2 separate regions of the Homo sapiens genome follow, and region 2 is linked to region 1. The links come from fine-mapping of genetic effects on gene expression. Tissue or cell type: skin. Region 1 holds a variant in brackets; the other region holds the start of a gene. All regions are shown on one strand. Distances are from middle to middle.

Region 1 (5,000 bases):
TCTCCAAGTAGCTGGGACTACAGGTGTGTGCCTCCATGCCTGTTTAAATTTTTGTATTTTTTATAGAGACAAAGTCTCCCTATGTTGCCCAGGCTGGTCTTAAACTCTTGGACTCAAGTGATCCTCCCGCCTCGGCCTCCCAAAGTGCTGGGATTACAGGCATGAGCCACCATGCCCCACTCAGACATGTTTTTATTGAAAGATAACACCCTACCCCAGATTGTGAGCATGTAGAGCCTATGCCTCCTTCACATTTGTTTCCCAGCAGGATACACCTTCGGATGCTCAGAAAGCATGAGCAGGTGGAATTACCCTAAATGAACTAATTCAGAAGCACAAAACCAAATATCACATGTTGTCACTTATAAGTGGTAGCTAATCACTGGGTACACGTGGACATAGAGATGAAATAATAAACACCGGGGACTCCAAAAGGGGCTGGGAGTGAGGGTTGAATAATTACCTATTTGATGCGATGTTCACTATTTGGGTAACGGGTACACTAGAAGTCCAGTCCCCACCAGTATGCAATATACCCACGTAACAAACATGCACATGTACCCCTGAGTACAAAACTAATTTAATTTTTTAAAAACCTAAATATGTAGATGACCAAAAACTGAGGGAAAAAAAATATTTGTGGAAGAGTCAATAAAAGAATCAATAAGAGAATGAAGTGCTTTAAAGCAATACCTCTTTAACTTTTATTTCATATATTCAAATATTCCAAGCAAAAAAATGACTCAATGCTTAAATCACTGGGTGAATTGGCCCAGTTTCCCATTCACATGCCCAGGTAGAGAGCCCAGCAGGTGAGGAAGGAGCTCAAGGCTGAGTTCACAGAGTTCCTCATTCTCGTTCCAAAACTACTTCTCAGGTTTTTGGTCTTTTTTTTGTTTTGTTTTTAACTATTAGTATTTTCTTCTTCTTCTCCTTCTCCTTCTTCTTCTTCTTATTATTATTTTTCTTTTGGTGAGACAGAGCTTCACTCTTGTCACCCTGGCTGGAGTGCAATGGCATGATCGTGGCTCACTGCAACCTCTGCCTCCCGGGTTCAAGCGATTCTCCTGCCTCAGCCTCCGGAGTAGCTGGGATTACAGGCACGAGCCACTATGTCTGGCTAATTTTTGTATTTTTAGTAGAGACAGAGTTCACCATGTTGTCCAGGCTGGTCTTGAACTCCTGAACTCAGGTGATCCACCCATCTCAGCCTCCCAAAGTGCTGAGATTACAGGCATGAGCTACCATGCCCAGCCTCTTTTTTGTTCTTAAATTTTCTTGTAGACACCAGGTCTTGCTATATTGCCCAGGCTGGTCTCAAACTCCTGGGTTCAAGTGATCCTCCCACCTCAGCCTCCCAGAGTGTTGGATTACAAGCATGAGACACTGGGCCCAGCCAAGGTTTTGGGGTCTTAAGTATTTCACTTTTCCGGATTTCTGTTTGCTATCTGTAAAATGAGCATGCTTTAAAGCTAAGAATAGAGATAATAAAGTTTAAAGTTTGAAACTTTGATTTGTATTTTTAAATGGTCACTATGACATTTAGCAACTGGTTTAGCTGGTTTTGGATGTTTATTCGGTCAACAGCACAGCCTGTGTGAAGCACTAGCTAAACACCCCAGTTAGCCTGCTCTAAAAGACAAAAACACAAACAAAAAACCCACTTGACTTTAGCACGTACAGTAATGAGTTTCAAACATGTCTGTGTGCAATCTACAGTAAGAAATAGATGTCTTCTTTTTCTCATGATGTCTCAGCGCACACCCACACACAGGCACGTGCACACACAGGCATTCACACACCAAAGTACAAGAAACGACCCATGTCCTTCCTACATGTAGTGTACCCTGATAGTTTCTATTCTCCTCCATTTCATTTTTAAAATTTGATTTTTTTTAAGTAAGTTGCTTTCTTGACCCACTAAATTGGTTTTGGCCTGCAGTTTGAGAAGCAATATTGAGGTTACGTTTTACTGACCACTCGAAATGTGACCAGTGCAAAATGAGATGTGTCATAAGTTTAAAATACCAGCAGAGTTTGAAAATATTACCAAAAAATAAAATGTACCATCTCATTAAGGAATTTTTCATATTAGTTACATGTTGAAGCAATCATAACTTGGATATATTGAGGTAAGTAAAATCTATT[CT/C]TTTTTTTTTTTTTTTTCTTGAGATGGAGTTTCACTCTTATCACCCAGGCTGGAGTGCAATGGCACAATCTTGGCTCACTGCAACTTCCGCCTCCCTGGTTCAAGCGATTCTCCTGCCTCAGTCTCCAAAGTAGCTGGGAGTACAGGCATCAGCCCCCACACCCAGCTAATTTTTGTATTTTTAGTAGAGAAAGGGTTTCTCCATGTTGGCCAGGCTGGTCTGGAACTCCTGACCTCAAGTGATCTGCCCGCCTCGGCCTCCGATGGTGCTGAGCTTACAGGTGTGAGCCACCACGCCCGGGCATAAAATCTATTCTTAAAACTAATTTCACCTGTTTCTCTTTCCTTTTATAGTGTGGCTACAAGAAAATCTAGTATTCTATCTGTGGCCTCTGCTATATTTCTGTTGGATGGGGATGATCACGAGCAGGGTCAGTCAACCATGGTCCACAGGTCAAATCCAGCTTGCCATCTATTTTTGTAAATAAACTTTTATTGGAACACAGCCTTGCTCGCTTATTTACATACTGTCCGTGGCTGCTTTTGTGATGCAATGGCAGAGTTGACTCATTATGATACAGACTGTATGGCTCACAAAGCCTACAATATGCACTATCTGGCTCTTTGCAGAAAAACTTTGTGAACCCCTAAAAGAGCATTGGGTGCTTATAATCTGCCAGTCACAATTCTGTGAGAGTTTTATGACCCTGTTTTACCAATGAGGCTCTGGGCGATTAAGTAATTTGCCTGAGGCCACCCACCTGGGCAAGAAGTCACAGAGCTGGGATTTGAACCATTGCCAGTCTGACCACAAAGCCTGTGCTATCATCTCTACCCTGTGTGTACCTTCCCATACACCCTCCAAAACCCTTCTTACCTAGGTACAGCGCTGAATTCTACCACTGTAGCAGGGAGAACCAATCAGCCCACCTGACCGTCAACCAGTCTAGAAGGAAATGGGAACAGGTTTGGTTGGGGAAGAAGGGATCTCCTCAGGGAATTTAAAGGTTGTTAACTGCTGTTTTAGTTTTAGGACAAATTACCTGCCTTCTAACTGCCATGCAAACAAATACCGCTCAGGTGTGACCAAAATTTAAGCATCTTAAGTCTCCGCTCTCTTCAGTTAGGAATTTTCATTAAAACAGCTTGCCTTTCACTTTCAACCCTCAAACCTAAGGACTTCAAATACTAGATTTGGTAACTCTGGATATCCAAAGTCACTTTGGGGGAAAAAGGAGCGTAGGAAAGATTGCAAATATTTAGCAGGGCTATTTTTGAATCTCTTGATTTAGGCTAGAAGTCCAATGCGCTATCCATTGCACCACAGAGCCTGCTTGCAAGCAGGGCTATTTTTAAGTGAAAAAGCTAATAACAAAATAGTTTGCAGAATGATACCTTATCTTGATAAATAAATAAAAATCACCCTTATCGTCCCATTCCATGTGTTTGTGCACGTGTGTGTGTGTGTTTTGAATATTATTCTCACAGGGTATTTGGAATTCTTTTTGCTTACACATACTTTTAAGTGTTTGTACAATTAAAAAAATGCATTGCTTGCGTAAGTTTTTGTTTCCTGGTTTAAGGTGCACATTTTTGGTTTTATTTTCTAAGTACATTGCTGAGCTTTCGCTGATTTCTACATAGGAAGACACAGAGAATGTGAACTCACCCAGATACAGAGGAAAATCAGGGTCTTTCAGGACTCGGACGGGGAGGGCATCCAGCAAAAGTAGGGCTGCAGCGCCCCCATGTGTCCAGGGCGGTGGAAGTCACCAGGAGTAGGCGGAGGAAGCCGGCTTCTGACATTTGGGGGAAGGGGACCTGCCTTCTCTATTGCGAATACTATTGGGAATTCCCAGAGTCAATCAGCAGTTAAATGCTTACTGAGTTTCTTATTCATACTCCATCTTGCCAGACCAGAAATCTGAGAGAGCTGGAGCTCCCAAGGCCCACCCTTTGGCTGCCTAAATTAAGACTCCCGGGGTTCCCACACTCTTTTTCCCAATGGCAGTGGAGGGTCTTGGGAAAACTGTCTGGAGGGAATGCCCCGAGTCCTCCTCCCAGTATCTGTTCAGGCTTGGCACCCTTAGGACCTCCCCTTCTGGAAGATTCAGCAGTGCATGTGTATGCTTGGAGAGGGAGGGTGGATAAATGTGGCATGAATCTATTTGGAAGGTTTTATACATCTTGAAGTCTCAACTTTAGGTGTTTCAGGGGGGTATTAAGCACACCAGGGCTTAAATCATAGAATATTTCAAAATAGCCACCTTTTTCCAAGCACCTATATACCTATATGTTCCAGCACTGGTCAAATGACAGATGACTATCGTTACAACCGTCCAAGATAGGTGCTATCATACCTACTTTATGGTGGGAGTCTATGAGGAACCTGAAGCTCTGAGAGGCCAAGTCATTAATCCAGTAAGTATCTGGTCCTAGATTCAAACATCTCTATCCTCCTTCTTGGTGCCAGGTGTCCCATGTGAAGGTTTGGGTCAGAGTGTGGTGCTAGCAGGTGGCAGAAGCCCAAGATGCATCATCACCCAGGGTCTCGGGCTGCTGGCCTCCATGCAGCTGCCAGATGTGGCTGTATCTGTCTTCCAGAGGGCTGTCCTTAACGCCTAGCAGAGCAGCAGCCTCTCTGTAAGGATCTGTTTAATGCATGAATGGCACCGCATTTTATTGCAGCTTGAGCTGGTCCCAGGAGACTCTCCTGATTTCTAAAGCTGCCACTTTGAAGACACAGGCCAGCCCAGCTCCTGACTTCTCCCCACAGTGAATGCAGGAGGCTCTTCCCCGGTCATTTTAAAGCTAGATGGCTGCAGGTGACCCATAGCACCCATATCCCCCA
Region 2 (5,000 bases), 28 kb after region 1:
GTGATGAGGTACACGAATGAGCTTTGAAAGTGAAGTGTTAAACAAACATAAGATGTCATTATTGCTTCTAATAATTCTTTAGAAATTGGTAATTAACATGTTCTGCGGCTGATAATTACATCACCAAATAAATGTGAACCAGAATGGTCAGTTTCCCATATTATCCTATTCCCCAAACATTCTGGATCAAACAAAGTTGAACTGAAAATATATAAATTGAAAGCATATAACTATATTGCTATTTTTGCTTCCTTCTCAGTAATGTATGTTTCAAGGAAACAATTTCAATATTGTTAGAGGGCAAAAGCTAACAAAGGAGACAGCCTGAGGAGTCTTAGTAAATTTTTCTTTACAAGGCACATTAACCAAAGATGTTAGAAGTTGCAAGAGATCTCATGAGTCCACGTGAACAATTTACTAATAAAAATCCTTGACTGGATGGAGCTAGACTTCTAAAAGGCAAATCCCAGACTATTTCTGTATCCCCCCAACTCGGAGTTCCTCACATGTGAGTTCCACTCAACAAGTGCTCAGTAAATGCTCCTGCAAGAAAAGAAGAGAAGAAGAAAGGAAAGACCAGGGCTTCTGAGAATGTCACCTGCTCATCAGTTACTGCTGTTAAATAATAATGGGTCATAGATCCTATATTTGTTTCCCAGCCGTTCAACTTTTTTCAATTCTTTCTTCTCTTAAATATAAGTTCCTCTGATGAATCTTTTCTTAACCATAAACAGTGCAGAAAGATGGGATTAATTGGATGGGAATCTTTCTAAAATGCCGAAAATCACTTTGGCTCTACATTGAATGTCACATCATTTGACAGCTTTCATTTAGGACAAAGGTGAAATAAACTTACTTAGTTTGGGGTTGTTGTTGTAACCTCTCCTTCTCTATCTGGCCATCAAAATAGGGAGTGAGCTGGATGCAGGATTTGGAAGACTAATATCATCCATCTTTTTCACAGATGTTTTCCACCCTAGCCTTTACAAGCAAGGATAAGTCTAGAAGGTCCATGAAGGCAACCAGAAATTCTTTCATATCTTTTCTAATATAAAAGCCTTTTTAACTAAACATGGTAAGACACTGATCTTGATCCATATGGGCTCCTAGTATCTATTTCTAGAGATCTGTTTTAGCACAAGGTACCACCCTCCTTGTACACAGGTGTCTTCCTGAAACATCTTTTTGGAGAAATAATAATCAAAAAAGTCTAAACTGCAAAATAGGGCAAAGGGAGAGACAAAATTTCATGCAATGACAAGATGCCAGATGCCTTTGGAAGGACTCTGGGGGACAGAAAATGAATGAATTCCTTCTCCTGGACAGAGAGACAGTTCTAGAAATATTTTCCTTCTATTGGAGATTGCAGTCTAGAGATCTGGCTTTGGATACCAGCTCTTCAGCCTGTTTAGAGATCCATTCCCCTAAAACAAGCCTGCGGAGTTGGTAAAATTTCTTAGGAGAAACTGGAAAATGCCAACACCACCACTTGAGCCCAGAGAAGCCCCTGATATTTGCTTTTCACATAACATGGATTTTGTGATCGCTTGCAAGTGAGTAACTGCAATTTTGGGAATTAACCAAAGGGCTGAGCTGCCCAGTCTTTTCATTGCCACTCAGGTTCTACGAAGCCCAAAAAGTTTTCTGGGAGATACTGGTCCAAGGACTCTGTGGACCTTTCCTTTGATGTGTGAGTATTCAAAGAATCCTTTTGCCCCCTGCAGCCCCTTCTGTCTCTTGCTAAAGACAATTGTCTTTAGTTATCACTGCGAGGGAGCTTTCCCCATGCCAGCTGGAATCTTGGGAGGCAGGACACGACTCCAGATCCTCGGGCTGAATAGGGAAGCCAATGCTATCCCTGCCCGCTGGAGTCTGGCGACTCCTGCCCTTGTCCCAAACCACACGTTTTCCCGCCTCCCGGGAAGCACCCAAATCTCTTCCACCCTTCCTTAGAGCTAGCCAGGGAGATTCCGCCTTCCAGGGACAAGGACCGATCGGAGCGGGCCCAGCATCTCCATGGCGACTCTGCAAACCTGGCGTTCAAGGCCGCGCGCGCTGGTCCTTGCCCCGCCCCAGGGCCCTGTCTTGGCTCATTCCTTCCGAGCCGGCACCACCTGCAAGCCCGCCTCGGGCCTGGGGCGCCGCGCTCCAGGCGCTGCTACCCCGGTGTCTGCTCACACTATGCCCAATCCCCTATTGTTTTGAAATCCCAAAAGTAACCTCAAGAGGATTTCTTCCTCACACTCTCAGGCCCCCAGCGCACCTTACCCTTTTTATCAAAATAAAACAACCCTCCACCTCTCGCATTTTCAAAGGATTAAGCAGCAATCTCCAGGAAAGAAAATCAATCCCCTCCCCACCATCCCATCCCCAGCCAAGCTACGGCTCCGCCACCACCTCCGAGGCCCGCCGCCGCCGCCTCTCTATCCGCATCCCGGATAGGGGCGCCACCACCCCGCGCGTGACCCCGCTTTCCCGCGGGTACAGATAAAAATCCCCTCACCCTTCCGTAGATGCCATGGTCTGGGGAACGCCCCCTCCTCTTCAGCACTATCCGGCAGCTGTGGGCGAGGGAGAAAGCGGACGCCGGGGTGAGCGCGAAGTGCGGCCGGGAGCGGTATTTAAGAGGAGCCTCTGCCCGCCCTTCCACCCGCCTCCGGGGTAAGCCCTTTAGCGCCTCAACGGGCGCAGGAGGCTCCTGCGGGCGCTAATCCGCGTCCCGGCTCTCCACGGCGCGCGACCCGCGCTCCCCTCCGCCCGCGGGGATGGCGCTTGGCGGGGAGCTCCGGGGGCTCCGAGGGTGGCTTCCCCGAGAGAGCGATGCGCCCAGGGCTGCAGGAGGGCGCACGCCGGCGATGCGCCCCTGCAGCCGCTGCCACCTGTGCTTTGCTGCGGGGCTCGCGGGCGCGGCGAGTGGCGGGAGCAGAGAGTGGTGGCAGAGGACGGTGAGCGTGCGTGCGCGTGTGCGGGTGTGTGCGCGCCTGGGGAGGCGGTGGAGGCCGCTGCGCTCTGGCTCGGCGCCGGCCAGGGAGGGATTGCAAGGTTTAGCCCCGCCGGAGCTGGGGATTTGCAGGCGATCCCTCTCTATTTTCGTCGAGAGCTGACATCACCCGCGCCGCCGCCTCGGGCAACTCCTTTAACCGCCGCCCCCCGCCCCCATCTCCAGTCGCGGTCCCTCCTCTGCCATCCCTCCCCCCAGCCTCTCGCCATAAATTAGCCAAATAAGAAAAGAGGCCCCGCCGCTCGTCCGGGAAGGCTTGGGCAGCCGGTGGCAGGAGCCCAGGATCTAAGGAGTAGCTATTGTTTCCCCTGAAGCCCGCGTGGCCCCAGGTCACCCCGTGCGGGGTGAAGCGCAGGCGACCGCGCGGAGACCCGGGATGCCCCTCCGTCTCCGCCTCCCTGGAGCAGCCCCTGGCGCTCCCTCCTCACTCCCCGGAGCACCCGCTTCAGCTCACACTCACCCCCAAACTCACAGGCAGGCACACCCACCCCATCCTCCCACGTCTGGGGGTCCCAGGTCCAGCGGAGTCGAGCGGCTGAAACACGCGGGTGGTGCAGCCTAAACGCGGCCCAGCTGCGCTCCCTCCCCCGCCGAAGCTCGAATAAATCTCTGGCCTTCAATTATTCAGCGAGATTAATATTAATGCAGCTCCCTGGGGGCGGCGGGCGGGGTGCAGGGGAGGCCGGGATTTTTTTTTTTTTTTTTTAGGCCGAGAGAGGTCGGCCTCGTGGGTGCCGGCTGAGAAGGCGCGGAGAGTTGGCCGAGGGGTGAGTGGCGGGGGACGGTTCTCCACCCACTCGGCGCTGCTCGCCGCCTGCTTCCGTGTCCCGGGGGCGGCGCACAGAGACAGATGGGCTTGTGCAAGGGAGAGTTCGAGCCTTCCGGACGCCTTTGCATAAAAATGACGAGACCTGTGCAGCTTTGATTATCTCTGGAATACTGCAGGAACCTAGGGTCCCACTACTTGCCGACCCTGTGAGCGCAGAGCAGGCAAAGCCTCACTTTCCTCGTCTAGGCAATGGAACCCAAAAGAACTCACTTGGAGGGCCACAGGAGAATTAAACAGACTCTCTTTTTCCCCGGGGTAGACGATCTTCGGATTTGCGCTGTGCTGGACCTTGTTAGACGATGGAACGCGACCGGCCACGTGCAAACTCTCTGAGTAGGTCCCGGGGATGGTGCCAGAGGAGCCGGAGTCCCAGCAGGACCGATTGGTAGTTAAATGCCAGGCGCTGATATCCGAAGGCTTGAGTTCTTCACCACCTTCTAGCTGAGTAACCTGGGGCAAATTCCTCCATCTCTCTCTTCATCCCACCTGTAAAATGGGACTATCTTCTCCCACTTCTCTGTGCTAAGAGAACTAAATGAAATGGAGAGGATATGTAAAACTCCTAAAGTGGCGTCTGGCACCCAGTAAACCCTCCAAAAATATTCAGTGCATTTTCAGAGTCCTTAGAAGATAGTTTATTGGACAAAATATCCAAGTATGAACAGACAGATGAGAAAAATAACAAGAAAAAGAGGGGAAAACACATTAATAAAATTTAAAAAATAAATCTCTGCTTACCTCCTTCCTTTACTCTCCTTTCCAAAATCTGAATCCAAACGTCATCTTCCATCCATGCCTTTCTCCATCTCTCCCCTCCCCCCTTCTCTCTCAATCCTGTCTGCACCATTAGAATAATCATGTCTGTACCTTATTCATCCTAGGTTCCTTCAGAACCACTCTAACTTTGCATTTTCTTTATTTAAAAAAAAATGCCATAAGCATCTCTTCGTCTTAGGGCATTTGACTTTGGGTACTCTTCTCTTCCGAAAAATTAGTTATTGTTTAACCTGGTAAATGTGTTTAAAAATAATTTGTAGATGAAGAGCTATCTTCTTTCACTTTGGTATTATGTTTGACACTCTCCTCTTAAGCCCCGTCAAGGGTAAGTGTGTGTCTTTGTATCTGAAGTTGTCACATATACAAACTTTACAGTCTAATTGTCTAACTTTA

Direction of the effects. Positions count from the first base shown, and alleles are read on the strand shown. Sizes are in standard deviations (SD) of each study's normalised expression.
In carriers of allele C in region 1, the expression in skin of the gene that starts at base 3,112 in region 2 tends to be lower than with CT alone (moderate effect, 0.64 SD a copy in TwinsUK).

What was found. PIP is the estimated chance that this variant, and not a neighbour inherited with it, causes the effect.
Region 2: SLC1A2 starts here. The variant in region 1 is fine-mapped to the expression of SLC1A2 in skin (TwinsUK, PIP 0.95).

What each region holds. Positions count from the first base shown.
Region 1 is chr11:35,388,514-35,393,513 of GRCh38, forward strand. All of the region lies in intron 1 of SLC1A2 (solute carrier family 1 member 2), which reads right to left. Among named protein-coding and RNA genes, the nearest start is that of SLC1A2-AS2, 28 kb to the right of the region's middle. The variant CT/C (reference allele first, on the strand shown) is at 2,149.
Region 2 is chr11:35,416,447-35,421,446 of GRCh38, forward strand. SLC1A2 (solute carrier family 1 member 2) reads right to left here and starts at 3,112. Exons shown (of 11, transcript NM_004171.4): 1 at 2,504-3,112. The coding sequence starts at 2,520. It overlaps SLC1A2-AS2 (SLC1A2 antisense RNA 2), which reads left to right and starts at 2,611. Exons shown (of 2, transcript NR_186310.1): 1 at 2,611-2,661; 2 at 4,090-4,556. RefSeq lists an enhancer at 2,758-3,258.